Linked DNA regions of Homo sapiens. The protein of the gene in region 2 interacts with the protein of the main gene of each other region in a biochemical or structural test. Each region holds a gene or a part of one and is shown on either strand. Other genes may lie near its edges. The genes, in order: FEZ1, WWC1, DLC1 and PRKCZ.

The links.
Region 1: the proteins of WWC1 (region 2) and FEZ1 form a complex in vitro, tested with the Homo sapiens proteins (one study listed by BioGRID).
Region 3: the proteins of WWC1 (region 2) and DLC1 form a complex in vitro, tested with the Homo sapiens proteins (one study listed by BioGRID).
Region 4: the proteins of WWC1 (region 2) and PRKCZ form a complex in vitro, tested with the Homo sapiens proteins (one study listed by BioGRID).

What each region holds. Positions count from the first base shown.
Region 1 is NC_000011.10:125,485,179-125,493,429, forward strand, and holds part of FEZ1 (fasciculation and elongation protein zeta-1), read right to left. Parts: intron 4,645-8,251; 5' UTR 4,600-4,644; coding exon 4,289-4,599; coding exon of another isoform or gene 4,285-4,288; exon of another isoform or gene 3,021-4,284; intron 1-3,020. UniProt on the Homo sapiens protein: May be involved in axonal outgrowth as component of the network of molecules that regulate cellular morphology and axon guidance machinery.
Region 2 is NC_000005.10:168,419,752-168,428,002, forward strand, and holds part of WWC1 (protein KIBRA), read left to right. Parts: intron 1-2,256; coding exon 2,257-2,346; intron 2,347-3,781; coding exon 3,782-4,317; intron 4,318-8,251. UniProt on the Homo sapiens protein: Regulator of the Hippo signaling pathway, also known as the Salvador-Warts-Hippo (SWH) pathway.
Region 3 is NC_000008.11:13,503,921-13,512,171, forward strand, and holds part of DLC1 (rho GTPase-activating protein 7), read right to left. Parts: intron 1-8,251. UniProt on the Homo sapiens protein: Functions as a GTPase-activating protein for the small GTPases RHOA, RHOB, RHOC and CDC42, terminating their downstream signaling.
Region 4 is NC_000001.11:2,178,574-2,186,309, reverse strand, and holds the end of PRKCZ (protein kinase C zeta type), read right to left. Parts: intron 5,997-7,736; coding exon of another isoform or gene 5,784-5,996; exon of another isoform or gene 3,569-5,783; intron 2,740-3,568; exon of another isoform or gene 2,435-2,739; intron 1,834-2,434; exon of another isoform or gene 1,728-1,833; coding exon 1,612-1,727; exon of another isoform or gene 1,389-1,611; coding exon 1,301-1,388; 3' UTR 1,033-1,300; downstream 1-1,032. UniProt on the Homo sapiens protein: Calcium- and diacylglycerol-independent serine/threonine-protein kinase that functions in phosphatidylinositol 3-kinase (PI3K) pathway and mitogen-activated protein (MAP) kinase cascade, and is involved in NF-kappa-B activation, mitogenic signaling, cell proliferation, cell polarity, inflammatory response and maintenance of long-term potentiation (LTP).

The DNA.
Region 1 (8,251 bases), on a different chromosome or scaffold from region 2:
CTGAGATTCAATTTGCTCTCTCCATCCCTGTATAACAGAAAAGGCTTTTTCAGGTGCATATTTTATAGCTTGGGCTTAGGTGCCTGTAGAATTGACTTAAGTATCTTTCGCCACAGAGAGCAGGGGCTTTGGGAAAGGCTGCTGGCAGAGTATGAGCAAACCCAGTGGAGGAGGGTGGAGACTGGGGGGTGCCAGGACACGTGTACAAAGAACTCCAGGGCCTGGAACTGGCAACATAGCCATCAGGGTTCTCTCAGTCCTGATGCACACGTAAACCCTTATATACCTATTTCTGACAATATGGCAGGCAGCTTAAAGGGCTTATTAGAATTCTAACTTGCTGACATTTCCCTCAAGCCTGGCTACTTCCCTTGTCTAGTGTTTTGCTGGTGTGCAGTCATGCCAATATCCACACCCAAATGTGTATTAATTTGAGTACACCTTTGCACTTTATGTTTAGAAAGTAGAAATTAGTGGCTGGGCGTGGTGGCTCACGCCTGTAATCCTAGCACTTTGGGAGGCTGAGGCGGGTGGATTGCCTGAGCTCAGGAGTTCGAGACCAGCTTGGACAACATGGTGAAAACCCATGTCTACTAAAAGACAAAAAAAAAAAAAAAATTAGTCCGGCGTGGCAGCGTTTGCCTGTAATCCCAGCTACTCGGGAGGCTGAGGCAGGAGAATTGCTTGAAACAAGGAAGCGGAGCTTGCAGCGAGCCGAGATCATGCCACTGCACTCCAGCCTGGGCAACAGAGTGAGACTCTGTCTCAAAAAGAAAGAAAGTAGAAATTATTAGCAGCACATTAATGCGTTTGCTCAACTTTCTAGATGTCCTCAAATGTTTAAATAGAATCAATACTATATCCGCTTTCTATAACCTCTAAAAAGAGAATTAAATTTTCTAAAAATCACAATTATGTGTAGTTTTCCCTAGCTGACTATTTGGTATTTACTTGTCTTCAACATGTAGTATATCTGATGACAGGCAGTTTATTGTGTGCACTTTATTTTTAACATCACCTATAACAATTCTATCTGAAGAAACAGCCATTGCATGGTTAGCCCCTCTGTCTTCAGGGTACTCGTAAGAGGGCTGATAGGGATCCCCAGTGACGTAGGAGGTAAGCTGAGGGCCGTCAATTTCCATTTTGTAGTGACCCCTAAGAGGCTGTGACCTCCAGGCCCAATCTCTTATGGCAAAGGAAGAGGGTGGTCACATATACACAAAGAAGAGATTCTGGGATATTTCTTGAATGCAAAACCAAAAAATGTGTATTCAAATCTGACTCTCCTTTAATGCCTAGAACTTCCATGCCCTGACAGATCAGAGATAAGTTGACAAATCTTAGCCAACTCCCCTCTTGGCTAAATAGTTCCAAATGAAGACTAAAGAAAGCTTCTAAGGGAATCACTACATTTGCTCTATGATTTGTGCTGTCTTTAAGGAGGCAGTTTAACCAAGTATTTCCCTGCTTTTGTTTTAAGCTTCTATTATTTACCTCTAACCCATCCACAGCACTTTTCACTCATTTGTGGATGAAACAGCCCTCTAAATACTAAACCGGAACAAGTTTATAACAATAACATTAGAGCTATGTTCAGGAGAAGTGTAGTCAGGTGAGATATTAAGTCACCCTTTTCCTTTACTTAGCCATAATTTCACAGTTGAAATATCTGGATAGTGTCTATGAAACAAAGTGTGTAACAGAATTCTGATTTTTATTTTAAATTATAAAGAGGGGTTAGAACTGAATGCCTAGAAAGTGTTGTGTTAATTTTTCTCTTCCCAGCTTCCTCCCGCTACACTGTCCCCAAATTATACCTTATCTCGAAGGAATTATTCAATCTTTGGTCTCTTAACTGAGGCAGTCAATGAGGCAGTCAAGTCAGAAAAATCAGGCTGAGGAGGCCAATAATCCCATGTGATGGTAATTAACATTGAGTGGCCTCTTCTAATGTGCTAGAAGACAGTAAGAATCTGCTCATTGGGCCTTCATCCTTAATGAGGCAGAGGAGGGGTTTTGATAGGGGGGAAATGATTTGTTGGAAGCAAAAGGAATGGGACGCATCTTGAAATGTCATTTTCAGAGCACCTGGGCATCCTGGGTGAGGTAAGAAATTAGGTTCTTTACAAGTCCTTAGCCTCACTTCATCAAGATTGAGCTCTGGAGGTTTCATAGATGAGGACCTACACAGTCAACCAGGGTTAAATGACTTGCCCAAGGTCACACAGCGAGTTAGAGAGAGTACCAAAATTAGAATTCATAGTCTTTGTATTTCTAGTTCATTGGCTGGTGCACTAGAACGAAAAAATATTCGGCATAATAAACCCCCAGAGCCATTCTTTTTTGACTTATAAATGTTGAGCAGATAACAGGCTCAGAATCTAAAAAGAATCTGTTTGAAACTTAAAATTTAAACACATAGCCCACAGCTATAGTACTAGTCAGCAGAATGAAATGTTCTCTGTGATCATACCTTCCGGCCAGCATTAATTAAAAAGAAAAGAAGGAAATGGTGTGGGCTTAGAAATATATTACATGTACATACAAGGCTACTAGCTATTATCACTCATCTAGTTTATTTGATATTCAATATTTCATTCAAAAATATTATTTGCACATTGCACTGTATTAGACAGTGGGGCTGTAAGAGTGAATCAGACAGATATTTGGCCCCTCTATGTGTAAAAGTAGAGTCTTACAGTAGTCATCAAATAAGCAACCCTCTCCCAAATACAGTCAGGTTCCAATCCTCTAGGACGTGCCTCTTACCCCATTATTTGTGGGCCATTCTTCCCACTCAAATCCACAAAAAGGGAAACAAAAGCACAGGTGCTTCAGACTTCCCTGACGTTTGACATTTCTTGTGTGATAGCTAAGAACAATGGATGCATATTGTATCTCTGCAGGGAACTCATGTAGACAGTAGTCCCCCCTTATCTGTGGTTTTGCTTTCCCAGGGCTCGGTTATCTGCTGTACAGTACAATGAAATATTTTGAAAGAGAGAGAGAAAGAGAGACCACATTCACATAATTTTTATTACAATATATTGTTATAATTGCTCTATTTTGCTGTGAGCTGTTGTTAGTCTCTTACTGTGCCTAACTTATAAACTGAACTTTATCATATGTACGTACATACAGGAAAAAACATTAGGGTTTGGTACTAGCAGCGGTTTCAGGCATTAACTGGGGGTCTTAAAACATATCCCCCACCATGGGCCAGGTGTGGTGACTCACGCCTGTAATCCCAGCACTTTGGGAGGCCAAGGCGGGCAAATCACCAGGTCAGGAGTTCGAGACCAGCCTGGCCAACATGGTGAAACTCCCATCTCTACTCAAAATACAAAAATTAGTCGGGCATGGTGGCGCACACCTGTAGTCCCAGCTACTCAGGAGGCTGAGGCAGGAGAATAGCTTGAACCTGGGAGGTGGAGGTTGCAGTGAGCCAAAATTGTGCCATTGCACTCCAGCCTGGGCGATAGAATGAAACTTCATCTCAAAAAAAAACAAAACAAAACAAAACAAAAAAACACATCCCCCGAGGATAGCGGGGAACCACTGAATTTTTACTAAATGCCTAAGACATCCTTCTTTAATTTGTGTAACATATCACCCCCTTCTCTTTCTAGTCCCTCCTGAAAGAGTACTTTTCTCAGATCCCTTTTCTTGACTACTATTAAGACCCTAGAAAGTAGCGAGCAAGTGATACAAGGAATCTGCATACTCAAAGGCCACATCACCTAGTTTCCACCTTTACTTTGTCCAGGGTAGCCCGCTGTGCTCTCAGTTCAGTTTAGATGCTTTCTTATGTGGACATATCCTAACATCTGTAGATAACTCTCCAGGCCTGAGGGGCTGTCAAAAATTCGGGATTTTCAAAATTCTGGTGTTTCTTGAAGCAAATTAGTCCAATAACATAGATTCATCCATCATGGTTAATTAATTTTTTCTGGCCTTTATTTCTAATATCTCGCTGGATTTCCACTGATATAAAGAAAGCTTAAGATAGACAGACCCTGAAATTTACTGTGCTCCTGAAATTCCATTTTGTATCTAGGAAAACCTTCATTCCTCTAAGGTTTCAATTTAAGAAAGTTCTCCTCAGGGGACTGTAAAGGGACATATATAGAGCTATGACAGCAAGTACCAGGGCACTGCTCCGCTGGCAACACGAAAATGAAAGTAATAGCCCATAAACCTATAGACAGAAACCAGCACTATGTCAAGGAGACAAGGACTACAGGGCTCTCGACTGAAGCAGGAGAGGGCAATTAAGACTTCTTACTCCTCGTCCTGAAGGGTCTCCTCCTCCTCTTGGATCTGTAACTGGTTCTTCACGGGAGCTAGGTTCTCGGTCTTGGCGTTGTAGTTCCGAAAGCAGACATTGAGCTTCTCATCAAATTCATTTACGAGGTCCTCCATGGACTTGAAGCTGATTATTTCGGAAGAAAAATTCTCAAGCTCGGAGAGGGAGGGGTCCTCGAGATGGTGGGGAGATGAACCATAGAAACACTGGGGCTTCTCCTCCGGGTCCTCCGAGCAGGAGGGTCGAAGGTCCTCAAACTCTTCATCCAGACTCACCAGTGGGGCCTCCATTCTTGCTCAGCAGGAGAACAACAGCGACTTTCAGGATGAGTTTATCTAAAAGAAATGAACAGCGTAATGTGAGTTTAGACCAGGCTAATCTAAATAATAGAGTTAACTTTAGAGACACACCTGCTTCCAATTCCCTACTCCAAAAAACAAGGCACTGGTTAAGTACGAAGCTCCTGGACAAGATCGTCTAGGTTTGCATTCTGTTCTGTCCTACCAGCTGTGACCTTGGGCAAGTGATTAATTGCTCTGTGCTTCTTATTCTTCTCAAGACAGATATAATACTGAACCCACCTCAAAGGGCTGTTAGAAGACTAAAGGAGTAAACACAGGTGAGTGCTTAAAACAGTACCTGGAAGATAATAAGTGCCAATATTATTGAATACTTTCTGTTGGTGTTTTAGTATTATTATTTTTATTACTATTACTATTACCACAGATCCATATCCTTAACTATGTGATCTGAAAGCTGAAAATTCTCCATGACTTGTTTGGCAGCAAAATGTGACATGATCTAAACTCATCTGGCAACTAAACATGACCAACATGAATATAAAGCTGTTCATGGCTTTAATTTATCCCATTTTGTGTGTTTTGCTGCAGAAATATTAACTTTTTAATTACAAAGATTGCTATCCCAGATCCCACTGGATGAAATGCGGAATGTACACTCTATTACTACTTTCCAAAATCTGAAATAATCTGAATTCCAAATGCCTGGCCCCAGGGGTTTTGGATAAGGGTTTGTATACCTAGATATTACTACCCTTATCAATAAATAGTAGAAACTAATAAAACATTGGCTGGATGTGGTGGCTCATGCTTGTAATCCCAGCACTTTGGGAGGTTGAGGTGGGAGGATCATTTGAGCTCACTCAGGAGTTCAAGACCAGCCTGGGCAACATAGTAAGGTCCCATCTCTATTTTTATTTTTTTAAAAAAACTAATAAAACATCAATAGAGACCTTCCAATAAATGCCTGAGTTGTTTTTGTTTCGTTTCGCTTTTGAGACATAGCTTCACTCTGTGGCCCAGGCTGGAGTGCAGTGGTGTGATCTCAGCTCACTGCAACCTACACCTCTGGGTTCCACCAATCCTCATGCCTTGGCCTCCCAAGTAGCTGCGTGTGCCACCACACCCAGCTAATTTTTGTATTATTAGTAGAGATGGGGTTTCACCATGTTGGCCAGGCTGGTCTCGAACTCCTGACCTCAGGTGATCTACCTGCCTCAGCCTCCCAAAGTTCTGGGATTACAGGCATGAGCCACCGTGCCCAGACAAGCACCCAAGGTTTTCCCACACATAGAGCATATGCCTAGGAGCAGAGGAATAGACTAAATGATCTATTATCCTGTATCCTGTAAGAAACAGACCCAACTACCCATGTGCTCCAAAGCCATACTCCATAACCATCTTGGGCACTGCACCCTGGAACGCTGCACACACAGAACTCCCTTCAGTTCCCACCAACTGTGGGACCTCTACCCCTCATCGGGCCATCTTCATGCACTGCTTCCAACTGTGATTTATCCATCTGTGTGTACATCTGGGCCCCATTCAATTTTAACTTAAATTCCTCGAGGACACAGAAATCCTCTGGATATCTTCCCTGGCTCCAAATATACACTGCCTACCCTGTGGCTAGGCAGTCAATCAATATGTGCTCGTTGAAAAAATGATCTATCTCCCACATACAGTTTTCCATTTTCAGTTTCAGGCAGCACAAGCATTGCTGACTATCATACCCTTCTCTACACGCTCAACAGAAAGGCTACCAAGCTTTTCTCTTCGGTCTATAGGGTTATTGATATAGTTAGGTGCTCAAATTGGAGGCGCTTCCTGAGGGGAACCAGACAGCAAAATTCATGGATTTTGCCCTAGGAGTGCCCATTCTCCATCTCTACCTACAAAACTAAAACTCTAAATAAGCAAGGCAAAGGACATGCCAGGCAAGAACACTGCCAGTTTGTACCGGGATTTTGCTGGGATTAAGTTGATTACCGTTGCTTTAAAACATATTTGGAGCATTTACAGTTTGCAAAGGCAACATGATAGGACCTTTGAATACAAAAATATATACAAGTAGTACCATATCTTGGAAAGAAGACAGGCTCGAGAGCCAACAGATCTGCCAATGGCTGGCTGAGTGACAAGCATCATTGGTCCTGATTTCCTCATTTGTTATAAGGAAGGTGTTGGTACAGAGTTAACATCTTTAGGAGTTATTTTTAATAAATCAATAATTTAATTAATCATTTTGATTGAAGTAATATGTTTATTTAATCCAATATATCCAAAGTGTTACCATTTCAAAATGTAATCCACAAAAAAACTAATGAGGCAGTTTTTATTCTTTTTTTATACTAAGCCCTTTGAAATCCAGTGTATATTTTCCATTTACAGTACATCTCACTTTGGACTAGCCACATTGCAAGTGCTCAACAGTCAAATGTGGCCTGTGGCTACCGCAAGGGACAACACAGCTCTAAAGCAAACACAAGTAATTGCCAGTCAGGGGTTCTTCATCTTCAGTACATAGACCCCTGCAGGCTCTTTGAAGGTAACTATATTTCAATGAAATTGGTTTCCTTTACAAGACTAAGTATTTTATTTTATGCATTTAAAAACATTATTTGGAGAAGGAGCCCACAGGCTTCTCCATACCACCAAAGGAGGTCATAGTGCAAAAAAGATTAAGAATCCCTGAGCAACAAAAAAGTGAGATTAGAAAAGATGGCAGAATGCAGTAGAGAGTAAAACAGTTTTCACAGCCCAGGGATTTGTGTTGATTAAGGCAGTACTCTGTGATGGCTAAGAGCATAGGCTTTGGGTTCCTGTCCTGGTCCTGTCACTCCTAGTTGGGAGACTTTGGGCAAGTTATCAACCTCACTGTGCCTCAATTTCATCATCTATAAAATGGAGTTTAAAACAGTGCTTCCCTTGAAGATTACTTTTTGGACTAAATGAGATCATCTTTGAAGTGTTAAGTACAATGTGCAGAATATAGAAAGCATCCAATAAATATCAATCATTCTAGAAAAATCAAAGCTGGGCACGGTGGCTCACACCTGTAATCCCAGCAACTGGAGAGGCTGAGGCAGGAGGATTGGTTGAGCCCATGAGTTTGAGGCTATAGTGAGCTATGATCACACTACTGTATGCCAGCCTGGGTGACAAAGTGAGACCCTATCTTTAAAAAAAAAAAAAAAAAAGTTAAAAATAATTCTAGGAAAACCAGGATAGCTAACTTACATAGAAATGTGATGTGGGGGCTGGGCACAGTGGCTCATGCCTGTAATCCCAGCACTTTGGGAGGCTGAGGTGCGTGGATCACCTGAGGTCAGGAGTTCAAGACCAGCCTGGCCAACATGGCAAAACCCTGTCTCTACTAAAAATACAAAAAAAAAAAATTAGCTGAGCATGGTGGCAGGTGCCTGTAATCCCAGCTACTTGGGAGGCTGAGGCAGGAGAATCGCTTGAGCCCAAGAGGCAGAGGTTGCAGTGAGCCGAGATCATGCCATTGCACTCCAGCCTGGGCAACAAGAGCGAAACTCCATCTCAAGAAAGAAAGAAAGAAAGAAAGAGAGAAAAGAAAGAAAGAAAGAAAGAAAGAAAGAAAGAAAGAAAGAAAGAAAGAAAGAAAGAAAGAAGGAAA
Region 2 (8,251 bases):
TTGTAGTGGGCCCACTCCAGGGGTTGGAGAGCCATTCCAGGGGCAAAGACACACCCTGGAGTCCACCCAAGCTGCCCTCCATGGGAGGTTTCAGGAGAGGTCAGGGCTGAGATATGGTCCAAAAGCCAGAGGTCTCTTCCAAACACAAGGATTTGTCTCCAGGGAGATAGTTTACTGAATTGGGCTTTGGTGTCAGGCATGCCTGGGTGAAAATCTTTGCTTCCAGTTCTGTGACATTCCGTCACATCCACTAACTTCTCCCGACTCTCTGGTCCCATTCTCTCCAGCTCCTTTGCTGACTGTTGCCAGTCCATCCAACCTCAGAATGTTGTGTGTACTCAGAGCTTGGTCCTAGGCCTTCCCTTGTTTTTGCTTCTGTATTTTGCCCTAAGATGGTGCGTGAGTCTACTAGGGCTGCCATAACAACGTACCACAGACTGACTGGGTGACTTAAACAGTGGACATTTATTTTCTCACAGTCTGGAAGCTAAAAGTCCAAGATCAGATGTCAGTGGGGTTGCTTTCTTCTGAGGTCTCTTCCCTTGGCTTGTAGGTGGCCTCCTCCTCCCTCCGTTTCACATGGTCTTCCCCCGTGCCTGTGCCCTAATCTCCTCTTAGAAGGACACCAGTCATACTGGATTAGAGTCTGCCCTACTGACCTCATTTTACCTTAATTACTTCTTAAAAGCCCTATCTCCAAATATAATCACATTTGGAGGTACTGCTGCTTAGGACTTCGATGTAGGATTTCGGGGGACAAAAATCAAGCCAGAACAGATGGTAATCTCATTCAGGTGGTGATCCATCTGATAGGGACCCCCCCGCCCCGACCTTTAGAGCAGCCCACCTGTTCAGTATTCATACCCACATATCCATAATAGAGCTCTTCTCTTCCCCCGGGATCCTCTGCCTCAGCCTTTTCCTCTTAGCAGATGCCATCTGCAGGGCCACTTGGCTGCCCGTAGCAGTAACCGCACAGTCTTCCACATTTACTCCCTCAGCCTCAGCTGCTCCTGCAGCCCAGGCACTGTCTCTGTCTCTGCATTGCTCAAGCCTCCACCATCTCGGTTACACCTCACAGCCACCCTCCCCGCCTTCAGTCTTCAGCCTCCTGCCCATTGTCCTCCCCACAGTCATGGTGACCTCAAGATGATAAGGTCTTTGCTAAAGCCCCTGCTTGGAATGTTCTTCCCTCCTGCACTTTTCCTAGCCAACTGCTGTCCATTATCCATCCTTAAATTTCTCTACTAGTCAGGAATCTAACTGCTGCAAGAAACAGCCCCCAAAGTCTCCGTGGCTTCATACAACGGGTTTATTTTTTGTTCATATAATGTCTAATTGGGTATGTCCAGTTAACAGGCAGCCTTCCATGTGGTCATTCAGGAACTCAGGCTCTTTCCATCTGTGACGCCTCCCCTTTGAGTCCACAAGAGTCCATGCAACAGACAGTAAAGAAGACACACACACTTTTCTTAACTACTAGTGCTCACATCCCATTGGCCAGAACTTGGTCATACGCCCTGCCCACCCGGCCACAGGGAAGGCTGGGAAAATGGTGGAGGCAGGGTACACACCACCAGTCTCAGCCACAGAGTCACTTGACTGGAAGAGGCTCACCTGCCAGTTCAAATTGGGCCTCTCCTTTTGTGTTCTTTTCTACCATTTGTACTTTTTCTTCATGGACCTTGTCACACACTGTGTTAATTAGATATTTGAGTATTTCTTTAATATCGGTTCTCCCCAGTAGAATGTAAGCCCTATAAGAACAGAAACAAGTCCTACTGTGCTCACTCACTACTTTATCCCCAGTGCCACAGGCAGGGTCCAGTACAAAACGGGCATTCAGTAAATATGAGCTGAAAGATGGAGGAAGGAAGAGAAGGAGGGTATGGTTGGGTGAAATCCTAATTCTGCCACTAATTCCACAGCTTTAGGTAAATTATACAACTCTAAGGGCCTCGATTTCCTCTTATGTAAAGTGGTAAAAATCATTCTTACTATGCAGCATTATTGTGTGACTGAATTAAGGCAGTGTCCTAAGGTTCCCAGCAGAGTGCCTGATATATATATATAGTGGGTGAGTGATATTGCAGTTATCATAGGATTATAATATATGTGGAAGCTCTAGCTCCCCAGATGCCGTGGTCAAATGCTTTACGGAAAGTTCTTGTGCCTGTGGGTCTGGGTGTACATGGGTAAGAGTGCATGCCTGTGCTTCCTTTTGGTGCATCCCTCGCATGCTTTCTCTCCTTCCAGGTTAAAGTTAAACAGTAAGAGGAACCAGCTTGTGAGAGAACTGGAGGAAGCCACCCGGCAGGTGGCAACTCTGCACTCCCAGCTGAAAAGGTGAGTGGTGGGCGGTGAGGCCACTGCTCCCCTGGGCATGGCCAGACATGGGTGTCCCCAGTGTCCCAGCCCAGGCTCTACCCTTCACTTGTCCTCCGTGGCTTGAGAGTGGATGTTTAGAAGCATAGCAAATGGATTGTCAGCAGACTCGGGCGTGGCCTGGTGTAGCTAGGAATAGGGGTCTTGACCTCTCCAGACTGATAGCACAAAGAAGGCCCCAGGCAGGTAATAGGTAGTCTTAAGAGACTCGGCTGGGTGTCATGGCTCACACCTGTAATCCCAGCACTTTGGGAGGCCAAGGTGGGTGGATCGCTTCAGCTCAGGAGTTTGAAGCCAGCCTGAGCAACATGGCGAAACTAAAAATACAAAATTAGCTGGGTGTGGTGGTGCATGCCTGTGGTCCCAGCTACTCAGGAGGCTGAGGTGGGAGGATGACTTGAGCCCGGGAGGAGGCTTACCGTGAGCCGAGATTGTGCTACTGCACTCCAGCCTGGGTGATAGAGCCAGACCTTGTCTCCAAAAAGAAAAAAAAAGCCTTAGGAAACTCACACTGCCACCTACCTGCACAACACAGAGAATGTAGCCTCAGACCTGGGCCTCCATGAACAACAGTGCATCAGTGGAATTCAATAACATTTTGTTCCATTAGATTTTTTTCTAATGGTGGTCTTCTCTTTGTAGTAAGTGATACTGCTTTTCAAATTACACTTAGGATGTAAAGTTTCCTTTTAATATAGATGTTTTAAAGTATTAAAACAGTGAGTTGGGGCAGGCGTGGTGGCTTACGCCTGTAATCCTACCACTTTGGGAGGCCGACGCAGGCGGATTGCCTGAGCTCAGGAGTTCGAGACTAGCCTGGGCAACACGGTGAAACCCCCTCTCTACTAAAATACAAAAAATTAACCGGGCGTGGTGGCAGGTGCCTGTAGTCCCAGCCACTTGGGAGGCTGAGGCAGGAGAATTGCTTAAACCCAGGAGGCGGAGGTTGCAGTGAGCCGAGATCGCCCCACTGCACTCCAGCCTGGCGACAGAGCAAGACTCCATCCCCCCCCAAAAAAAAAAAAAAAAAAAAAAACACAGTGAGTTGATTTCAAGAAAGATATTAAGAAATCTTTATTACATAATGGATTCAACTATGAAAACATATCATACAAATGCAACGTAGCCAATTGGAGCTTTGGGAAACACAGATTTAGAGGAAAAAGTGGACTTTTAAGGCAGCTATAACTTGAGTCCAAAGCCCAGCTCTGCCATGTCTTGATTATGTGGCCTTCTTGGGGTATCAGTTTTCCATGAAGTGGGGGTGAAGGGTCTACCCTAGAGATTGCCAAGCAAGTCTAGTGAGATCATGGTGCTTTCCAGAGCTCAGCAGAAGGTCTCAGGGGGCCCACTTCACTGTGTGCATCTCACTGTCCTTCCCCTCCCTGTGTCCCAGTCTCTCAAGCAGCATGCAGTCCCTGTCCTCAGGCAGCAGCCCCGGATCCCTCACGTCCAGCCGGGGCTCCCTGGTTGCATCCAGCCTGGACTCCTCCACTTCAGCCAGCTTCACTGACCTCTACTATGACCCCTTTGAGCAGCTGGACTCAGAGCTGCAGAGCAAGGTGGAGTTCCTGCTCCTGGAGGGGGCCACCGGCTTCCGGCCCTCAGGCTGCATCACCACCATCCACGAGGATGAGGTGGCCAAGACCCAGAAGGCAGAGGGAGGTGGCCGCCTGCAGGCTCTGCGTTCCCTGTCTGGCACCCCAAAGTCCATGACCTCCCTATCCCCACGTTCCTCTCTCTCCTCCCCCTCCCCACCCTGTTCCCCTCTCATGGCTGACCCCCTCCTGGCTGGTGATGCCTTCCTCAACTCCTTGGAGTTTGAAGACCCGGAGCTGAGTGCCACTCTTTGTGAACTGAGCCTTGGTAACAGCGCCCAGGAAAGATACCGGCTGGAGGAACCAGGAACGGAGGGCAAGCAGCTGGGCCAAGGTAGAGAGCACCATACCCAGAGGGTGGGAACCAGGAGGAGGGAAAGAGATACTCTGTGCTCAGAACCCCCCAGTGATCATTCTAGTCGATATTTACTGACTGCTTCTGTGTGCTGGGTCTTTGTATGGCAAGTATATTTATTCAGTGGATGTTTATTAACTCAGTATTTTTGAGGTCCTGTGTGAAGGGTTTTCAGTAGTAGATTCTGTCCTCCAACAGACATTTAGCACCTCATAAAACTAAATGTCAGGTCATCCTGTGCTAATGGATATACATGGATTCATCTATTCATGATTATAGATATGCTGGGTGCCAGGCACTGGGTTGGTCACTAAGGATTCTGTGTTGAAGACAGACAGGGTCCCTGTTCTCATGAAGCTTATGTTCAAATGGAGGCACAGGGAATAAACCTGCAACCAAACAAGCACTACAAAGAAAATAAAACAGGGAATGTGATCCAGCCTTTCTGGTTAGAGGTGGGACTGCCAGGGCAGGTTGGGTTGTGAAAGAAGATGACATTTGAGGGTGTCTTGAATGGTGAGATGGAGCCAGCCTTGGGAAAAGCAAGAGCAAAATCTCTGAGGTCAGAGCAAGGGACTAGAAGGGGAGCCAGGAAGCCATGAGTCAGAGGTAGGGGGTTACCAGTGAGGCTGGAGAACTAGGCAAGAGTCCAGATCCTGAAAGGCCTGGTGGGCTGTGCTAAGGAGTTTGGATTTTATCCTAATTGCACTGGGGACCCATGTGACCGTTTGAAGCCAGGAATGATATGATCTGACTCCCATTCTGCATGGGGTCAGAAAGAACATTTTGGTGTTGGCCGGAATTTAAGTTGGAATCTTCAAAATAGAAGATGATGCTGACATTGACAGCTAAGATTTATTAGGAGAAAACCTTTTTATCTTTAGCAGCAACCACATAATAAATCATAATAGTTAACTTTTATTGGGGATATATTATGAGTTGGGTAATGTGCTTGATACATGGTGAAATCAGTTATTTCTATTCTGTCCATTTCACTGGTGAGGAATTGGAGATTCAGAGAGGTGATGTCACTTGCCTTAGGTCACCCAGCCAACAAGTGAGGAAGCAGGGATAGGAACCTGAGTGTTTCTGGCCCCGGAACCCAACCCCCTTATTGTCATGCCTTAGGCTGGGAGGCAGTTCAGCATGCACATTCATGCCAACTCCTGGTGCTTGGGGCCCCACCAACCCCATCTGGCTCTGGGTGTGAAGGTCAGGACTGAGTAGGATGCTCAGTAAACTCACCTGGGCCTTCTTGGCTTTCCTGGCCACAGTAAAAATAGCTCACAATAATCATAGCTATGATATATAGCGTACAGGTGTTTAGGATTTAGGTACTTCTCTGCATATTTACTCATTTAAGCCTTACAACACCTCTGGGAAGTGGGTGCTATTTTTAATCTCCTTTTTTTTTTTTTTTTGAGATGGAGTCTCACTCTGTCACCCAGGCTGGAGTGCAGTGGCACCATCTGGCTCACTGCAACCTCCACCTCCTGGGTTCAAGCGATTCTCCTGCGTCAGCCTCCCGAGTAGCTGGAATTACAGGTGCACATCACCATGCCTGGCTAATTTTTTTTTTTTGTATTTTTAGTAGAGGCGGGCTTTCACCATGTTGGCCAGGCTGGTCTCGAACTCCTGACCTCAGTTGATCCACCCACCTTGGCCTCCCAAAGTGCTGGGATTACAGGCGTGAACCACCAAGTCCAGCCCCTTTTATCCCCATCTTAAAGATGAAAAAAGTGAGGCACAGTGAGGTTAAAAGACTTGTCTGAGGTTAGTCCCACAGAGTGAAATGGCAAGACCAGGACTGGCACAAGGACCACCTGCTCAGAACGCACACTGTTATCCATGTGCTGAGTTCTGTCTACAAAAAGCTGGTGCTCCTGGCTCCAGGTGAGGCCAGCTAGAAGCAGCCAGACCCATGTCAGCTCTGTGGCTCCAGGCATGGGCAGGAGTGGTGCTGCTGTGCCCAGAATTATCCATGTGTGTACAAGGGCCAGTGGGAGCATGGTAGGGAAATGAGGTTTCCTTGTTAACGAAAGGCTTTGAGTGCCAGTGGTTTCCTTAGAAGAGGAGCCGAGAGATCCCTGGGTTTCCCTCATCAGGAAGGGAGTCTTGCTGAGTGCTCTCAAAATAAAAGCAAGCGCCCTACTATAGCAGGTGGCAAGCCTCAGAAAATTGTTCCCTGGAGAGGAGGGGGTGCAGGTGGAACCTCTAACAAGGCTCAAAGAGCATGCCTCTGATATCAATATTAAGCCAAGTCAGGACACTCAGACCCCAGCTATGTCCTGTGAAGTGACCCCCTCCTCTCCCCTCCCTAACAGTGTCTTTGGGGCTTGTGGGCCTCAGACAGCACATTAGGCTGGGCACACACAGGTCTCGGGATGGCATTTCCTTCATGCCATCTCCAGAAGCCTTCCCTGCAGCAAGCAATGCCAGGCAGAGCTTAGACGCTAAGCAGGTTATGTGATTAGTGCCGCTGTTCAGTCAGCAGACAAATTAATCTCCTTAAGTGGTTTAGTGGAGGGTGGAGATGCGTGGGTCTGAAAGCAGGAGGTCTCCGCGGGCTCAGCAGGCATGGGACGCAGGCTCAGCTTCCCCATCACCAGCACTTGCAGTCTCCCAGACCCGCCTTGTCACCCATCGCCGTCCCCGGCCTGCCATGCCCTGGACTCTGTGCCCCTCAATGCTGCGAGCCCTTGCCCTGCTCCGGTCTGCCCGCAGGTGCTCAGAGGTGTTAGCTGTGAGGTTGTAAGATCTGGATCTGGCCTTCCCCGCTGCAAGGAGGGCAGGAATTGTCTTATTCATCTTTGTAGTTCTGAACATGGCAATGGGCCTGGCACATCGTGAGTGATCATTACTTGGGCAAGGAAGGAATGTGCAGCACGTGTTGAGTGCTTAGTTATGAGCCTCAGATCAGAGACTTTCAAGGGCCCCTGTTAAGGTTAGGGAAGAGGAGGAGCTGAATTCGGAGTGGAAAGGGATAGGCAGTGGAAGAACGGGTGCTTAATCTCTCCCTTCTCTGTCCTGAGGGTCCAGGGGCTGTTATTTTGCCCCAGGTGGGTAGGGATGGATCTGTTAGGTTGATGCAAAAGTAATTGCAGTTTTTGCCATTGAAAGTATGGATATCTACAGTGATAGGAACAGTAGTGGCAATAAGGATAGTTGTAATGAGTTTTGCAGAGCACTTTGCCTGCCTGCACCAATCTCTATATTAAGGACTTCCCTTATAATGTCTCGCTGAGTCCTGTCAACAGCCCTATAAGTAGGTATTATTATCCAAGTTTTACAAATGAGGCATCTGAGGCTTAACAGGATTAAGTCAGTATCTCAAGGTCATGAAGCAGTGAGTGGTGGAGCCGGATTTGAATCCAGGCAGTTCGACTCAAGAGCCTGGGATGGTAAAACACAAAATCACATGTGACTCCTTCCATCACCCTAAAGCAAACTTTTTTTTAATTTTTTTTTTTTTTTTTTTTTTTTGCTTTAGCATTTAGAGGTGGTTGGAATTTGGTGGAACCGTCTGTCTTCCATAGAGAGTGTATCAAAATTGGGAGTTCAGGCTCCCCGAATCCCAAAGTGTTGGGATTACAGTCGCTGACGCCTGTAATCCCAACACTTTGGAAGGCCAAAGCAGGCAGATCGCCTAAGACCAGGAGTTCAAGACCAGCCTGGGCAATATGGCAAAACCCCATCTCTACAACAAAATAATAATTCAAAAATTAGCTGGGTATGGTGGCACATGCCTGTAGTTCCAGTATTTGGGAGGCGGAGGTGGGAGGATCACCAGAACCCGAAGTGGTCGAGGCTGCAGTGAGCCATGATTGTGCCACTGCACTCCAGCCTGGATGAGTGAGACCCTGCCTCAAAAACAAAACAAAATTGGGAGTCGCAAAGGCAGTTTCCTGGTTCC
Region 3 (8,251 bases), on a different chromosome or scaffold from region 2:
AAGTCAAATGGTATTTGAGGTACAGTTTCCTACTGGATAGAAGAAATCTTCCTTTCTTTCTGGCTTCAGATTTCTACTATTCTAGAATTACCTCTTTGGAAAAGATAGCAGAGGTAACAATAAATTCCAGAGAATTGCTTGCAACTCGAAAACTCACTAGTTACCTTGGAGGGTAACATTTATCAGAAACATTTCAGAGAATTTTTTTTTTTTTTTTTTTTTTAAGACAGAGTTTCACTCTTGTTGCCCAGGCTGGAGTGCAATGGCGCCATCTCAGCTCACTGCAACCTCTGCCTCCTGGGTTCAAGTGATTCTCCTGCCTCAGCCTCCCGAGTAGCTGGGATTACAGGCATGTGCCACAATGCCAGGATAATTTTTTATTTTTCCTAGAGACAGTTTTCTTCATGTTGGTGAGGCTGATCTCAAACTCCTGACCTCAGGTGATCCGCCTGCCTCGGCCTCCCAAACTGTTGGGATCACAGGCGTGAGCCACCGCGCCCGGCCTTCAGAGAACATTAAGAGAAGAAATTTTTCAAAGAAAACAATTTTAGCATGTGTTCCAGAACAAATGATTCAAGTCTTCCGATTGAAGGGAACTCATGAGGATGCAATGGTACCAGAAAGAACAATAGACCACGTAAGAAATGTCGTTGTGAATTTTCAGAACATAGGAGGTAAGCAAATGGTTCTAAATGTAATCGGAGAAAGAGAAAAAGAGATGATATATTAGGAGCTGGGAATCAATGGTATCAGATTTGTCAAAAGTAACAGTGCAGGGAAGACGACAGGCAAATACGACTTCAAAATTTGGATGGGAAATTATGTCTGCCTTAAAATTATATGAAAAGTCTTACTTTTTTTTTAACCTCTTCTCAAAAGCTACTGGAGAGATAGCTAACCCCAAATTAAAAAATAAACACAGTGGGAAAGACATGGCAAAAGGAAGCCAAGAATTCAGCACAAGTGAGGAAGGTATAGAATTTTCAGGATAAAAGTTGTGTAGCAAGTCCAGTGGTCAATCATTTCACATAACTCCTAAAGTTGTCTCTGGGAGATGTCTCTAAAAAAAGGGAAATAATAAATTATATATGACATATTGAGAGGAATTTTATAATAAAGTCAAGCAATTTGGATGGAAGAATTATTAATAGTTATAGAGAACACTAGGGATATCAATTATCAACCACAGGAAAAATAGTTTTACAAGAAGGAAAATATAATTATAGTATACTCCATAAGCTGTGGCTAATTTTTTTCATGTAGTCAAAATAATGCAAATAGTAAACATTAAATTAACCAAAACATATGAAGCAATGATTTTCAGTGCATAGGATTCTGTGAGGAGTGAGATTAGGGAGAGCAGGGAAAATAATTTAAGGGAGATAGTCACTTTCTGTAGCAGGAAGTTAACAGATAATGTTTAAAATAGAAAAAAAAATCATAGTACAATCATATTGTTTAGAAATACAGAGTTAAATATCAGAAGACATAGCTAAAAATAATTTAAAGTATTATGATATTGTGTGCCATTTGCTAAGAAAGTCTTATCTCTGGATTTCAGAATTCATGCTAAAAATAATTTAAATTTTAAAATGTTCTACAGCAGTAATTTTAAGGTTAAGCTGATGCATAAACACGACTGCAGTTCTTCTGCAATATGTCTGGTGGGGCCAAACCATTCTTTTTGCCCCATTCCCCCTCACCACAGCATCCCCTCGCAATTACACAAACACCAGTCTCATGTACGTAGCAAAGAAAAGGTGCCAGTTTGGATATTTATCTTATGTCACCAATGTCAGCACAATTTCTATGAGATTCTTAGGTCAGTTCTTTCAGTTTCCTTTCCTTCCCTAACTCTCCTGGGGAATTCCTGAAATTTGGAACAGGTATTCTTAGGAATTGTCTAAGCCATAGTTTTCCTAAAATGTTATCTGAATAGAAGTTTAAGATACATAAAATAACATATAAATAGCATTACATTAGTACATGCACATAAATGGGGAATTCTCACTCAAATTCCCACTTTTCCTGAATCCCTCACTCACAGTACTTGGAAAGATGGCAACTTTTGTATTCATCCCATCAAATGCAGGTATCTTATTTTGTCCTTTGAGAATACATGTGATACATATATGTGTGTGTGTATATATAAAGCAGTCCTTTGAGAATACATGTGATACATATATGTGTGTGTATACATAAAGCAGTCCTTTGAGAATACATGTGATATATATATGTGTGTATACACACACATATATACACATATGTATACAAATACATGCACACATAAATATGTATATGTAAACACACACATATATATAAATGAACACGCTATTGACTTCTGGGTTGTGAGAGTGTGTGTGTGTGTACACATATATATTGATATAAATAAATGAACACATGATTGACTCTAGGATATTCTATTAAATATCCTGAATATTTAATGGAAGGGAAAATAAAGACATAACAGTACTGCCATTTTACTTTTCTTTTCTTACTTCTTCCTTAGATAGCTAGAATTACTTCTGGTTTCCCTTAGAGTTTTTCATCCTGATTAGCCATCCCATGTTAAATTTCTAGGTCGTGTTCTCCACCTACTGCTTTATACACATACACACACATGGACACACACACACACACACACACATGTGTGTGTGTGTGTATATATATATATATATATATATATATACACATATATATACACACAGAGAGACACATGCACCCAAATATATATGTGTGCATATGTATGTATATAAATATACACACACACTTACATAAAACAGCTATCGCATAGCATGTGCTTAGTCACTGTGGGAAGGAAGAGAAGATGTAAGGGAAATAATCTCATGTTAATTAAACGCAACTTAACAGTTTCTAAAATGCTCTCTCAGCATATGAACGAAGAAGAAGACACCTCTACATTTGGCACATTTTGTTGCTACGTGGTGAGGGTCACCTTAGTAAGATGCATATGTTGGAAACCTGAATATCTGGTAATGATATGAAATCTTACTGTATCTTAGCCTACTCTTGGGGACTCACACTTGTACATCGTATGTGCCCCCAAAACACTTACTGAATTGAATTAGGCAACTAGAAAAGACGATCAACAACCTGGAAACAGACATGATCACAGGAGCACAACTTAATATAGTTCTTCAACTCATGTCAAAGTAAATCTTCATTACAAAGAGCATTTGTGGAAGCCAAAATGAAACCCATTTTCTTAATGATAATGTCAAAGAACAAATTACCTAGCAAACTAAATTGTGTACATTTGGGCGCCTTCCCACTGGCACACAGCTCAGTGATAAATGAAGAGGAATGCTCTTTACGACCAAACTGACTTGACATATGCTTAGAAGCCAGAAAGCCCAGGGAAGATATTATGTTTCTTAATTCCTTTATGTAAATACACAAACAAATAGCAAAAACCGTAAGAGCACATTTCTAAAAAGCATTTCTATGAGTCTAGTCCAGACAGCCAACTTTCAGTAAAAAACAATTAGTGTTTTTCCTTTAAAATATTCATGTTATCTAATCTAAATTAGACAAGACTAGAATTAGACTGTGGGTGGATAAACATTTAATAACATGATGCAAGAATTTACCTCCATATGATTTCATGCAGATTCCCTTTCTTTAGTAGCAATATGTGTCTTAATCCCACACAAAATCATTATTCCTCTACTTTTACATACTTTGTTTAATGCTGGAATGTACTTGTTATACCTCATTACATGTTAGTGGAAAACATGAATCCCTGTTAAAAGTTTTATTGGCAAATTGCTTAATGGAGATTAAAATATTATATATGAAGTAGCTTCCATGTCTTTAGGCTGTCTGGAAAGCATCAAAAACTTTACCAAATTAAAGAATAAGTCATCTATAATGAGCCAAGTAAGGGGAATAAGTAGTGTTTCACTTTTTCCAAAATACACATCCAACGTTCCATCAGGTTTAGTCTTTAGAAGAAAAATGAAGAAATAGGTACCCAGCTGAAAAATATTATTTTATTGTTAACCCATTTTTAGGTATATCTGAGTTTTTACTCAACTTAAAACATTTTTTTTATTCTTAGCCCTCAGTGATTCAGGCAAATTTGAAAGTTAACTCTTTCAATCCACTAGAAGTCAGCTCATGAGAAAAGAGCAGGGTGTTGCAAAACTGCAAGCTATTATTTCAGCGGTGCTCTATTTTTACGTCCAGGTTGCTGCTATTTAATGTCGCTTCCAGTAGTGTCTAATTTTCTTGCAGAGAGGAGAGCAGATACTGGCAGTGTTTGACTTACCACCCACTTTATGGCTCAAGCCAGCCAGATTTGGAGATTCTCTTAACATTTTCTTAAGCAACCCGCATGTAATTTGAGGAAACTGGGAATATTTTATGATATTCTCCTGATATCACTGAGATCTTTCTGGGGATATTGGTTTCTAGGAGATCCCAGAATTAACAGAGCCATGTGGGACAATATTGCTTTATGGATGTAGTAACTTCTTTTTCTTTTTTTTTTTTGAGACGGAGTCTCGCTCTGTCGCCCAGGCTGGAGTGCAGTGGCGCGATCTGGGCTCACTGCAAGCTCTGCCTCCCGAGTTCATGCCATTCCCCTGCTTCAGCCTCCTCAGTAACTGGGACTACAGGTGCCCATCACCAAGCCCGGCTAATTTTTTTGTATTTTTAGTAGAGACAGGGTTTCACTGTGTTAGCCAGGATGGTCTTGATCTCCTGACCTCGTGATCTGCCCACCTCGGCCTCCCAAAGTGCTGGGATTACAGGCGTGAGCCACCACGCCCGGCCAGATGTAGTAATTTCTAAGTATCTATGTTTTATTTGGATCTCCATGTTTTATTTTTTTTTAAGTATGCAATCTTCTTAATAGTACTGTTTGATCCTATGCAGAATAATTTGGGCATTTACAAATACATTGTACCTTAGATTAATTCTGCAAATAAATTCATTAATGAATAATTATCTTCTTTGCCATAATATCTCTTTTCTGTAGAACCTCTTACAATAAAGAGAAGTATTGCCTTTCCTCTGATCTTGTTTCACTTGAAATTTTTCATGTAACAGGAAATAGCCTAGGGTTAAAGTTGATATTAAACGTGTGGCTGACCTTTTTATTATTGATGGCAAAGCAGTATGATTGAAATGTGGTTTGCTGTATTATAAAAAGATATTTTTATTCAACAAGGAACACGGATTATAATGTTTTATCATCATCATGGTGAGATGCGGTTTTGCTTTAAGTGGTCACTTTATTTTTAGCTTTGCTATCATTTCTAAGAACACTCCAACAGTAGACACAGTAATCACTCCGCGTAAATAACAGATATAGCTACATCAACCCAGGTGCTCAGATAGCAAGTTGACAGTAGGGAATTACATTTTTAGTCATTCCATAAGCACAATTTTCACTGAAATCAGGAACAAGATGTCATTAGGAACTTAATTACTTCTGTTAGCTTGGTGTCCTACCTGGGGTCAATGTCTCTGCTATCAACTTTTGTCTTCCATACATCTCTATCATCTCATCTTAATTATGTCATCTACCTATAAATGTTTGAGCTTATTTTTATCACCAAGTGTTTTTCTTAATACCTAAGAAATATTAAGTGCATTAGAAACTTATAATGATAATTATAGTAAAAACATCCTTCAATTAATTAAGCACTTATTATGGGCCAAGTACTGTATTCGGTGTGTTACTTAGAAGCTATCTCCTTTAGCAGTAATACAAATGTTGTATGAAACAAATACCATTATTGCTCTAATTAATTTGATAGGGAAGAATTTTGGCAGGACTGATTAACTAGCTCAGTGTCAAATACATACTGGTGGGCAGGAATTGTCTCCCATTTTTGTGAGGATGTCTGTGAAATAACTTTTTTCCCCCTGGTGATTAGGGTTAGTTACCTAAATTCTATGTACCTCAGTTTTCTCAGTTCTGTAATGGGAATAATGAAAAAACTGTTGAGGGGAAAATGATAATGAGTTAATAACAATGAGATTATAATATATGTAAAACACTTAGTCCATGGCACATTTCAAGCACTCACTAGATGTAAAGTGACTTGATCATGATGATGGTGATGGTGATGGTGATGATGACTCCTTTAGCTTTCAACTGATCTTAGCTGCAGAATCCAGGGCTGAGTATGAGCTGAAACTATCTCTTCTATGTCCATGATATTTCAATATAGATGAGTGATTAGAACAAAATGTGAGTGAAACACAATTATTCTTTATTCTTTTTTTTTTTTTTTTTCCTGAGATGAAGTTTTGCTCTTGTCGCCCAGTCTGGAGTGTGATGGCACAATTTCGGCTCACTGCAACCTTCACCTCCCAGATTCAAGTGATCTCCTGCCTCAGCCTCCTGAGCAGCTGGGATTACAGGTGCCTGCTACCATGCCTGGCTAAAGTTTTTTGTATTTTCAGGAGAGATGGGGTTTCACCATGTTGGTCAGGCTGGTCTCGAATTCTTGACCTCAGGTGATCTGACTGCCTTGGCCTCCCATATTCTTTCTTGATTAATTGACTTATGCCTTTTTAAACAAGGACTTGTTGATTATACTGTATGCAAAACAATTTGCACACATGAAATCTCATCTAATGCCTAACATGACCTGGAAATCCCATACTTTACTAATAAAAAGCAGAAACTCAAAGTAGTTACGGGGCAAACATCAAATCACAGAGCGTCAAGTGGTTAAGAGGAAATCAGAGCCAGTTTTCTAACTTTGTCCATTATTTTTTTCGGTACACCACCCCATTTAAAATGTGGAAAATTCACTAGTGCTCTGTTCTCACTGGCCTCATGTAACTTTTAATTTCAAACCATTTCTGGATGCCTATGCTTCCTTCTGGTGCTTAATGAACTTGAAATGTCATCTAATGAGAGTGTTGTTAACCTCTGGCCCCAGGCTCTGATGACTCTTTCCAACCTCTTATTTTCCTTCCCCTTTAGAAATTATTATTCTATTATTACAGGATGTCTGGAAAATAAGAAAGAAGTCCAACTCCCACACATTACCATTCCTCAACCCTGGTTTTCCTTTCTTTTTTTTTTCCTTCGCTTTTCCTTCCATTCATTTCACAAACATTTATTGACAAATAAGTGTTGATAATTCCTGGCAAGCTAGGTATTTTGCTAATTGCTGGGAATAAAAGAAACACTAATTGAGTATCTAAACCTGCTGTTTGATCTTCCTACTTCTTTTCTATCTCATTTCCATTAACAGGGCTGATTTTCTCTTTGAATTATTTGAATTGCATTGCTAAAACACTTTGTTATTTCAAGCTAATACAGAAACAACCTTTTCACACATGCAATTGTCTTTTCCACCCATTTATCTCAATTAATGAGCAAGTTCATATGCATGCTGTTTACATTATCTTTCACCTTTTTTTTTGGCATTTGAGTCACTGTTTAATCTTTTAAAGTTCATTTATATACTCTAATCCACTGAATCAAAATTAACAATCTTTTTTAACTGGGCCTCAAGGTCCTAGTTTATTCATTATTATTCTGTTTAACTTTCTTAAAAATTAGCCCATTTATTTATCAAAACTCTGTAAACTATCAGTTGAAAGCCAAAACAGAACCATAGAAGTAAACACTGTATTTCTCTATCACACCAAAGTCAATCAAGAGTCATTCTTCTCTGTAACTCTGTTTGGTCTATGTTGTTTATGCAAGGGGCTTATCTTTCGTGTGGGGAAAGCAGGCCCAATATTCACACTACTTCCCTCAAATTTGAAAGTTTTCAGTGTTCCCTTGTCCTCTTCCAATTCTCATGTGCAATTCTTGACATGTCTCTATTTTGATAATAAAATCCCTGATCTAGATCTTGGTCATTTGGAACTTTGCCATACTGTAATAGTTTTTAAAGAGTGATTCTCATTTTATAACACTGACATCACTCATTTTTCAAGAGGAAACAAAAAACAAACAAAAGACAAATTTCAAATGATCAATTTTTGACCTATTTTAAGCCTGTAAGATCTAAAACTCTATGAATAAGATTAAACCATCCCATAAGTATTTGTAGTGAGTTATATGGTATGGGTAGGTATAGACAGAGAGAGAAAAAATTCTTTTTTTTAAATTATAATGTCCTTATGAAGAAAATGAAGTGATGTGCTATCTTTTACTAGGCCTTCTAGGAATCAGGCAGTCAGCTATAAGGGCCACCACTTTACTGCACTTATTTCTCATTCCAATAATGTAGAGTGTGGTGACATTGAAAGG
Region 4 (7,736 bases), on a different chromosome or scaffold from region 2:
GGCAAGGCAAGGCGCGGCACAGACCTCCTAACTTGGGGTTTTACGTCTCTCTTCCCCAAGCCACCAGCCGCACAATGGGGTGGAGCGGCCCCTGAGTCATGGAGGCCTGGGGTCTCTGCGCCTGGCCAAGAGGGCTGCGTGGCAATTTCCACACCTGTGCACCAGGCCTCACTCAGAGGCATGAGGTGGCGCGACCCCCTCTCCCAGGGAGCTCAGAAGACGGCTCTGCCACACCTGACACCTGGCAGCTGGCAGCCCTGCCTCTAGGAAGCCTCAGCTCTGGACAGCTGTGCCTTCACCTGAGGGGTGGGTGGACGGAGAGCGCGGGTGTGTTCCCGGGAGCAGGAGGTCCGCGCCGCTGGGAAGAGTGCCTGTGTTTCTGGGTGTTTGTAGGGTCATCACGTTCAACTTTAAGGCTGGGGTCCGTCACATGCACATCTTTTAGTTTTCCCTAACTCTCAGTGCTGTGTGACAGATAAGAATATCTTCCAAAAATCAAATGCGTCGCACGAGGCATCGTGCAGGCACTGCTTAGTGTGGTCAGAAATGATTTGTGCAGATTTAGTGTTCAGTTTTTTCTCTTTTTTGGTCTACTGTGCTTTGGTGGGCCACGTTTTAGAATCTCTATGATCCAATTTCCCCCATCGGTCCAGTGAGCTGGCTGGCCCAGCTGCCATCTGCTTAAGGTGTCACTTCACCCTAGACCACAGCGGCTGGGACACACTCTGCAGGAAGAACAACAGGAACTTACCGGGGTTTTTAGGAAACAATTCTTGATTGCGGTGTGTCCCCACAGGTACTTCAACTCCCGCCCCCACCTGTGTCCCGCTGGCTCCTAAGCTGCCCCCCTACGTGTGGGTTGCGTCTGAGATGTGGGGCAGGCGCCACTCACGGAAAAAAGGCATCAGAGGAGCTTCCACATCATCGGAACATTTTATTCCTCAGGACGCTACACGCTCACTTTCCTGGCGGAGCAGGTCAGTGCATCGAGTTCTGTTTCCGTGGAAAATGTGCACCTTGGAAACCGCATGACAGCCCCCTCGGCAGGGTCCCCGCGGATCCGCCGCGACGCAGGCACAGCAGCAAGTTCCTCCAGCACGAAGCTGGCCTGCCCGGGCCCAGGTGTGAGGGACTGTTCTGCTCCCAGCAGCGCCCGCTGACGCTTCCCTCTGCGGTCTCGGCGCAAGCGTCTGTCCCTGGCCGCCCTCGGAGCCGTGCCCAGCCTGGCATGCATATGCGGTGGTTAAGGATACAGTTAAAGGGTCAATCACGCGTGTCCACGACAGAGACGCACGCGGCCTCACACCGACTCCTCGGTGGACAGCAATAATGGGTTGATATACTCAAAGCCTTCGAACTCTGACTGGTCGATCCTCTTTATGGCATCCCTGTGGGCAAAGGTGGCAGGGGGGAGGGGGGTGACCGTGTGTTCATTCCCTTGGGGGAAGCGGAGTCACGTTCGCATAAGAATCCTCCCCCAACGCCCACTGGAGAGATGACACCAGGCGGGTGGGACTCAAGGGCAGGCTGGGTCACCAGCTGCCCAAGGTGCCGGCCTGCCATGGGGCTGCCCGAGGGGTGCTCCAGGGACCCGCACCCAGTGGGACTCACTCATCGTCTGGGGTCAGCTGCACGGGCTCGCTGGTGAACTGTGTGTCAAAGTTGTCCAGACCGTAGTCGTCTGTGATCTGTGGCTGGAATGGAGGGAGCGCCTGCTTCTTCTCCAGCTTGGAAAAACAATAGGAGAAGGGTCAGCTCCGCGCGGGCATCATCCCTACCAGATTGAGTGTTTTGCACGCACTTCAATCACAAAATGAAACAGTGAGAAAGTCAGCATTTCAATCTGCCTAGTATTTGACTGCCAAGTGTTTTTTCTTACAACACAAAATCTAGAAAATATCCAAAGTCAGAAAAATTGTTGTCGAGCTGAGAAATGCCAGTGTCGGCCATGCTGGCCACATGTGGGACGGAGCAGGATCCCCAGCCACCCATGCGAGGCCACCCCCTTCCTTGGGGGGGTCCTTGTTCAGAGGGGCACCGACAACTAACTGGCTGAACAAGCCGTCTCATGACGTCTTGGAACCCTGACCATAAAGGTGTAGGACCTGGCCACAGCACCCTGCCTGCGCTGGCACTGCACAGACCCGTCTGTCAGGAGCCTCCTGCCGGCCCATTTCTGCCTATCCAGGCATCGACTTCAGAATCTCAGGTGCTGCTTGGCAGGAAAATGCCCAGCAGGCGGGCCTGGGACTCGGTGATGCGCCTGTGCCGGGGAGGGCAGAACGCTGGTGCCTGGCACAGGTGCCACAACACATACGGGTGAGGACACTGAAAACCCCTCAGTTCCCCCGACTCATGGCCACTTGTCCCAGTGACACAGCCATGCTCTCCCACTCACCCACAATAGGGTCTGAATGTGCCCCCCAGATTCACAGTGAGAAACTCATTCCCCAGAGCAACAGTGTAGAGAGGTGGAACCTGATGGGAGCCCCGCCCTCACAGACAAACTCCTGTAGCTGTCAAGACAGCTTGGGCATGGATTCCTCTCTGCCTTCTGCCATGTGGACACGTGGCCTTCCTCCCCTCTCTCCTCCGGGGAATGCAGTGTTTGGGCGCCATCTTGGAAGCAGAGATCAGGCCTCACCAGACACCAAGCCTGCTGGCACCATGACCCTGGACTCCCAACCTCCACAGCTGGGAAAGAACTCTGCTCCCTAGAAATTACCCAGGCTCGCTCAGGTATTCTGTTACAGCAGCACCAAGAGACATTCACTCGCTTACTCCCTCACTCTCTAACCCACTCCCATTCACCCTCTCACTCCCTCTCTAACCCACTCCCATTCACCCTCTCACTCCCTCGCTAACCCACTCCCATTCACTCATTCACTCACTCACTCTCTAGCCCACTTTTTTTTTGAGATGGAGTCTTGCTCTGTTGCCCAGGCTGGAGTGCAGTGGCGCGATCTCGGCTCACTGCAACCTCTGACTCCGATTCAAGCTATTCTCCTGCCTCAGTCTCCTGAGTAGCCGGGACTACAGGCATGCACCACCATGCCCAGCTAATTTTGTTTTTTGTTTTTGTTTTGAGACTCGCTCTGTCTCCCAGGCTGAAGTGCAGTGGCACGATCTCGGCTCACTGCAAGCTCCACCTCCCAGGTTCACACCATTCTCCCGCCTCAGCCTTCTGAGTAGCTGGGAGTACAGGCGCCCGCCACCACGCCTGGCTAATTTTGTTTTTGTATTTTTAGTAGAGGCAGGGTTTCACCATGTTGACCAGGCTGCTCCCGAACTGCTGACCTCAGATCATCTGCCCTCCTCGGCCTCCCAAAGTGCTGGGATTACAGGCGTGAGCCACCGCGCCCGGCCCTCTTTAGCCCACTCATTCACTCACTCCCTCGCTCTCTAACCCACTCCTGCTCACTCACTCATTCACTGGCTCACTCACTCTCTAACCCACTCTCTCTCATTCCCTTGCTCGTTCTCTAGCCCACCCTCGCACACTCATTCACTGGCCCGCCCCTTAGGTGTGTGCTCCTGTACCAACACTGAAATCCAGCTGTCACAACAGGCACCCACTGACTCCAGCCTCATGGAACCACCATTCACCAGGCTTGAGGGGAGGATGTCACGGCGCGCTGCTCCCTTCGGTGCCAGCCAGGATGGGGCCGGGTGGGTGCAGCTGGTGAAAAGAAATGCAGCCCCCCAGCCCCTGCAGACCAAGCCGAACAGCCCAGCTCGCGGGTGGATCACAGGGCACCCAGCAGCCGCCTTCCCTCCGGAAGAGCCAAGAAGGCTTCCAAGACCAGAAATGCCCCCAGTGTGGCTGTGCCTGTCCCCGGTGCCCCGCCAGCTGGGGGGCAGCATACCCAAACAGATGCACCCTGCCCATGATGGCACCCCAGGGACCCCCATCCTCAGGACCCTCCAGTCGTTCAAGCTGGAATTGGCAGGTTTCTGCCTGTATAGGCATCGGCTTCAGAGTCTCAGGTGCTGCTTGGCAGGAAAATGCAGGGCAGGAGGGGCTGGGCCTCAGCTCGAGGCTCCCAGGTGCAGCCCCCCACTCCACTGCAGGGCCCAGGGGGGCCAAGAACAGCCACAACAACAACAAAAGCCAAACTGGGAACGGAATCGTGGAAAAAACCCTCATAGGCTTTTGGGAACTTACAAAGAAATGCCCACATCCATTCTACTAACATGGCATCTACTAACGTGGCATCTACTAGGATGCCACAAAACAGACAAATCCTTCCACGTAAGGCTGGACACGTGTCAGGGCGGTGTCTCAAAGCTGGGCCACAGGCAGCATCCACGGCCAGGCCACTGGGTGGAGGAGACGGTGCTGGGGAGGAGCCGGAGGGAGGGGCCGGGGCTGTTCCCTTAGGCAGAACGGCTCACCTGTGGTGTGCGCACAGCAGGATTGTGGGGACACAAGATGCCCCCTTCATTCATCAGTTACTTGTATTCTTTGTATGAAACACCTGCCGATAAAATGTGAAAAAGGGGCATTTCCTAAAGTACTTTCCCTACCTTAGTCCTGTGCTGCTTTACAAGGGTTTAATAAGCAGCAGGGGTGGGAACAGAGCAGGACCCAGCTGGAGCTGGCCCAGGGTCCTCCAGCCCCTGGCCCAGCCCGTTCTCTGCTCCGAGGGCTCAAGATTGCCTCAGTTTCCCTGACAGCATCCCCAGGGGCCAGCGTTACCTCCTCCTCTTGCTCAAAAGCCTTCAGTGCCCATCTCTGCAGCTGGCACGTGGGCTCCAGGTCGGGACCCATGGTGCCTGACACCTTTTCCCACCGCCGCCCCCTGCGCCCAACCCATGGACGTCCTGGCCTCTCAGAGCAGTGCGTTTGAATGCACGCTGGCCCCAGGTCGGACGCTGTGGCAGTAACAGGTGTTGCCCCTGTGGCTGCAACCACAGCAGTGACCTGAGATACAACAGGGGGCCCGTTCCGTGTCAATGGGGCTGGGGGCCCAAGGGCTCTAGTTCTGAAGGGACATCTGAGAAATAGCCTGGGGGAGGTGAGGGCTGGAGCCTGGGGAGGGCACAGCTGTGCAAAGGCCCCATAGTGGGTGTGTGCCTTGTGCGCTGGGGGCCACAGAGGGGCCCCATGAGACCCGAGTGAAGGGGCTGAGGGGGAGGAGGCTTTTGGACACAGGACGACCCTGCTGTCCGTAGGGCCAGGCAGGATGCTGGTGGCTTGGTGGAGGTGGCGGGGGTGGGGTGGGGAGAAGCAGCAGGGCTGGGGGGCTGGGCTAGGCCCCGCATGGCAGAGCATGGTCAGGCACAGAATGGACGAGCCCCACGTGCTGGGCAGGGCCTGGAGGCGTCCAAGGGGACAGCACGCCAGGGTCCACTTTGGCCATACTAGCCGGCCACATGGAAACATCCTGGAGCCAGTTCTTGGCAATGATGAGAGGAGGTCCCTGAGACCACCCTGCACTGTTGGGGTGATGACGGTGAGCCCTGCCACCGGATGCAGGGCTGGGCCCAGGAGGTAGTGCCCTGGGGGCAGCATGGGACTCCCAGGCTCCTGGTGCCCAAACCACAGGAAACGCCCAGAGAGCCCTGGGGTGGCAGCACAGCAGCGGTCATCTGAGCATCCCAGTCATCTGTGCGTTTGAGTCATCTGTGGATCTGAGTCGTCCGTGCATCCATGTCATCTGGGTGTCCGTGCATCTGAGTCGTCTGGGGATCTGAGTCATCCGTGCGTCCACGTCGTCCGTGCGTCCAGGTCATCTGTGCGTCCACGTCGTCCATGCATCCACGTCGTCCGTGCGTCCACGTCATCTGTGCGTCCACGTCATCTGTGCGTCCGCGTCGTCTGTGCGTCCGCGTCGTCTGGGTGTCCGTGCATCTGAGTCATCTGTGGATGAGTCATCCGTGTGTCTACGTCGTCCGTGCATCCACATCGTCTGTGCGTCCATGTCGTCTGTGCGTCCACATCGTCTGGGTGTCCACGTCGTCCGGGCGTCTGTGCATCTGAGTTGTCTGTGCATCTGCAGTCAGTCCCCATGCATTTTCATAAACAGGTTGGCCTTAAAGCCCCACCGAGGATCCACCCACTCAAGGCTCCAGCTAGAGGCCCCACGCCTGCCCTGTGCCACGCAGCATGGGGTGGACAGAGGGGTTCGCGGGTGGCCAGGCCAGGGCACTGCTGCCTTCTACACACTCCAGGCTTGAGAATTTTACGGCCACACAGGTTGGCCCTGGGTAGTGGAGCTGGCACCAGCCCAGCTGTGGGGCTTGTCCCTCTCCATGAGGTCACAGCTGTGATCCCCACTTCTGACGGCCTCCACTGCTCCACGTCTCCCATAACCGCCTCCCTCCTGCTCCCACCCGCTGCCCAGACCCAGCCATCTCTCTGTGGGCCTCTTGTCACCTGCCCTCCTCTGCGTCTTTCCGTTTTCCCCTCCCTGCCGCCGGCTCCTTGCGCAGCACACAACGTGGCTGGGTTCCTCCCACCGAGCTCCCAGGAACGTGCCTGTCGCACGTGGGAAAGTCCTGAGGCTCCCACCACACGAAGCATTAGAGTCCTTGCTCCTCCCTGGGGCCTCCCACCAGCAGCCCTGGGCCCGGGGTGGGAGGAGCAAACCACTCCTGGCCCTGAGGCAGAATCTCCCCAGCAACATGGGCAGCAAATGACTCTCAAGAGAATCGGCTGTCACCACGCAAACGTTTCCATCCAGGGGGAGATGAGTTAGCGCAGCACCGCCCGGCCATGTGGGACACGTGGGGTTGGGCAGCAGGTGGTGGCTCAGCTGTTAACTCACCACCACCTTTCACATCAGTGGGGAGCTGGGACCATGCTGGGAAATCCATCGCTTCAAATCTCAGACTCCTGATAGTCACTAGCACAGATCACGTGATCCACAAATACTCAGGCTTTGCAGTGTGCCAAGTACCGGGGATCCTGCGGGGATGGGGACCCTCTTAGAGTGGCAGCCCCAGCCACCAGGCCAGGACGTGCTGTCTGGACCCAGTTCCTTCAGAATGAGCCTGTCCATCACTCAAAGCTCACCCGGGACAGGCCCAGCAACTTCCCCACGGCCTTTGCTCCCACAGCCAAACCGGAGGACTCAGGATTAGGAGCCTGAGGATGTGCCTGGACCGGCGGAGGGTGGGGTCTAGACACGGCCCATGGGAGCCCCCGACAAGATGAGCGCCACCTCCCAGTGCAGGGGCAAGGCAGGTGGATCTGCCTGGCTGACGGGGCCCTCTGCACACACACTGCCTCTCTTCTCCAGGGCAGTGTGCAGAGGCCAGGCTCCAGGAGGAAAGCAGTGTTGGGGACCCGGTGCCGGGCCCCAGAGTCACACCCCAGTGGCGGCGACTGCCTGAGTGGTGCTGGTTCAGCTGGGGATAGGCAAGGAGGGGGCGGCTTTGGGGTGACTGTGACCCTGTCCCAGCTCTACCCTCGGACACTCGGGGGGCGGGCACTGTGTCCTTTCACCATCCATTCCTGCTGCTCCCACTGCCTTCCCCGCAGTCCGTGAAAGAGACCCTGAGTCCACAGGTGGGGACCAAGGCCTCACACGTGCCCCACTCCCACATGGAGCTGACACCCACCGAGGGACTGTTCTCAAGCTGTGCCCACTACAGCCATGGAACTAAGTCCAGCACAGACTGAGGGGGCCCCCAAAGGGACCAGAAAGCAGCCGCTGCAGGAACAGGTGGCCCCCCTGAAAGGCTAGACTGAGACCACCGGACCTGCAACTGCGCCCTGAGCACGTGCCCAA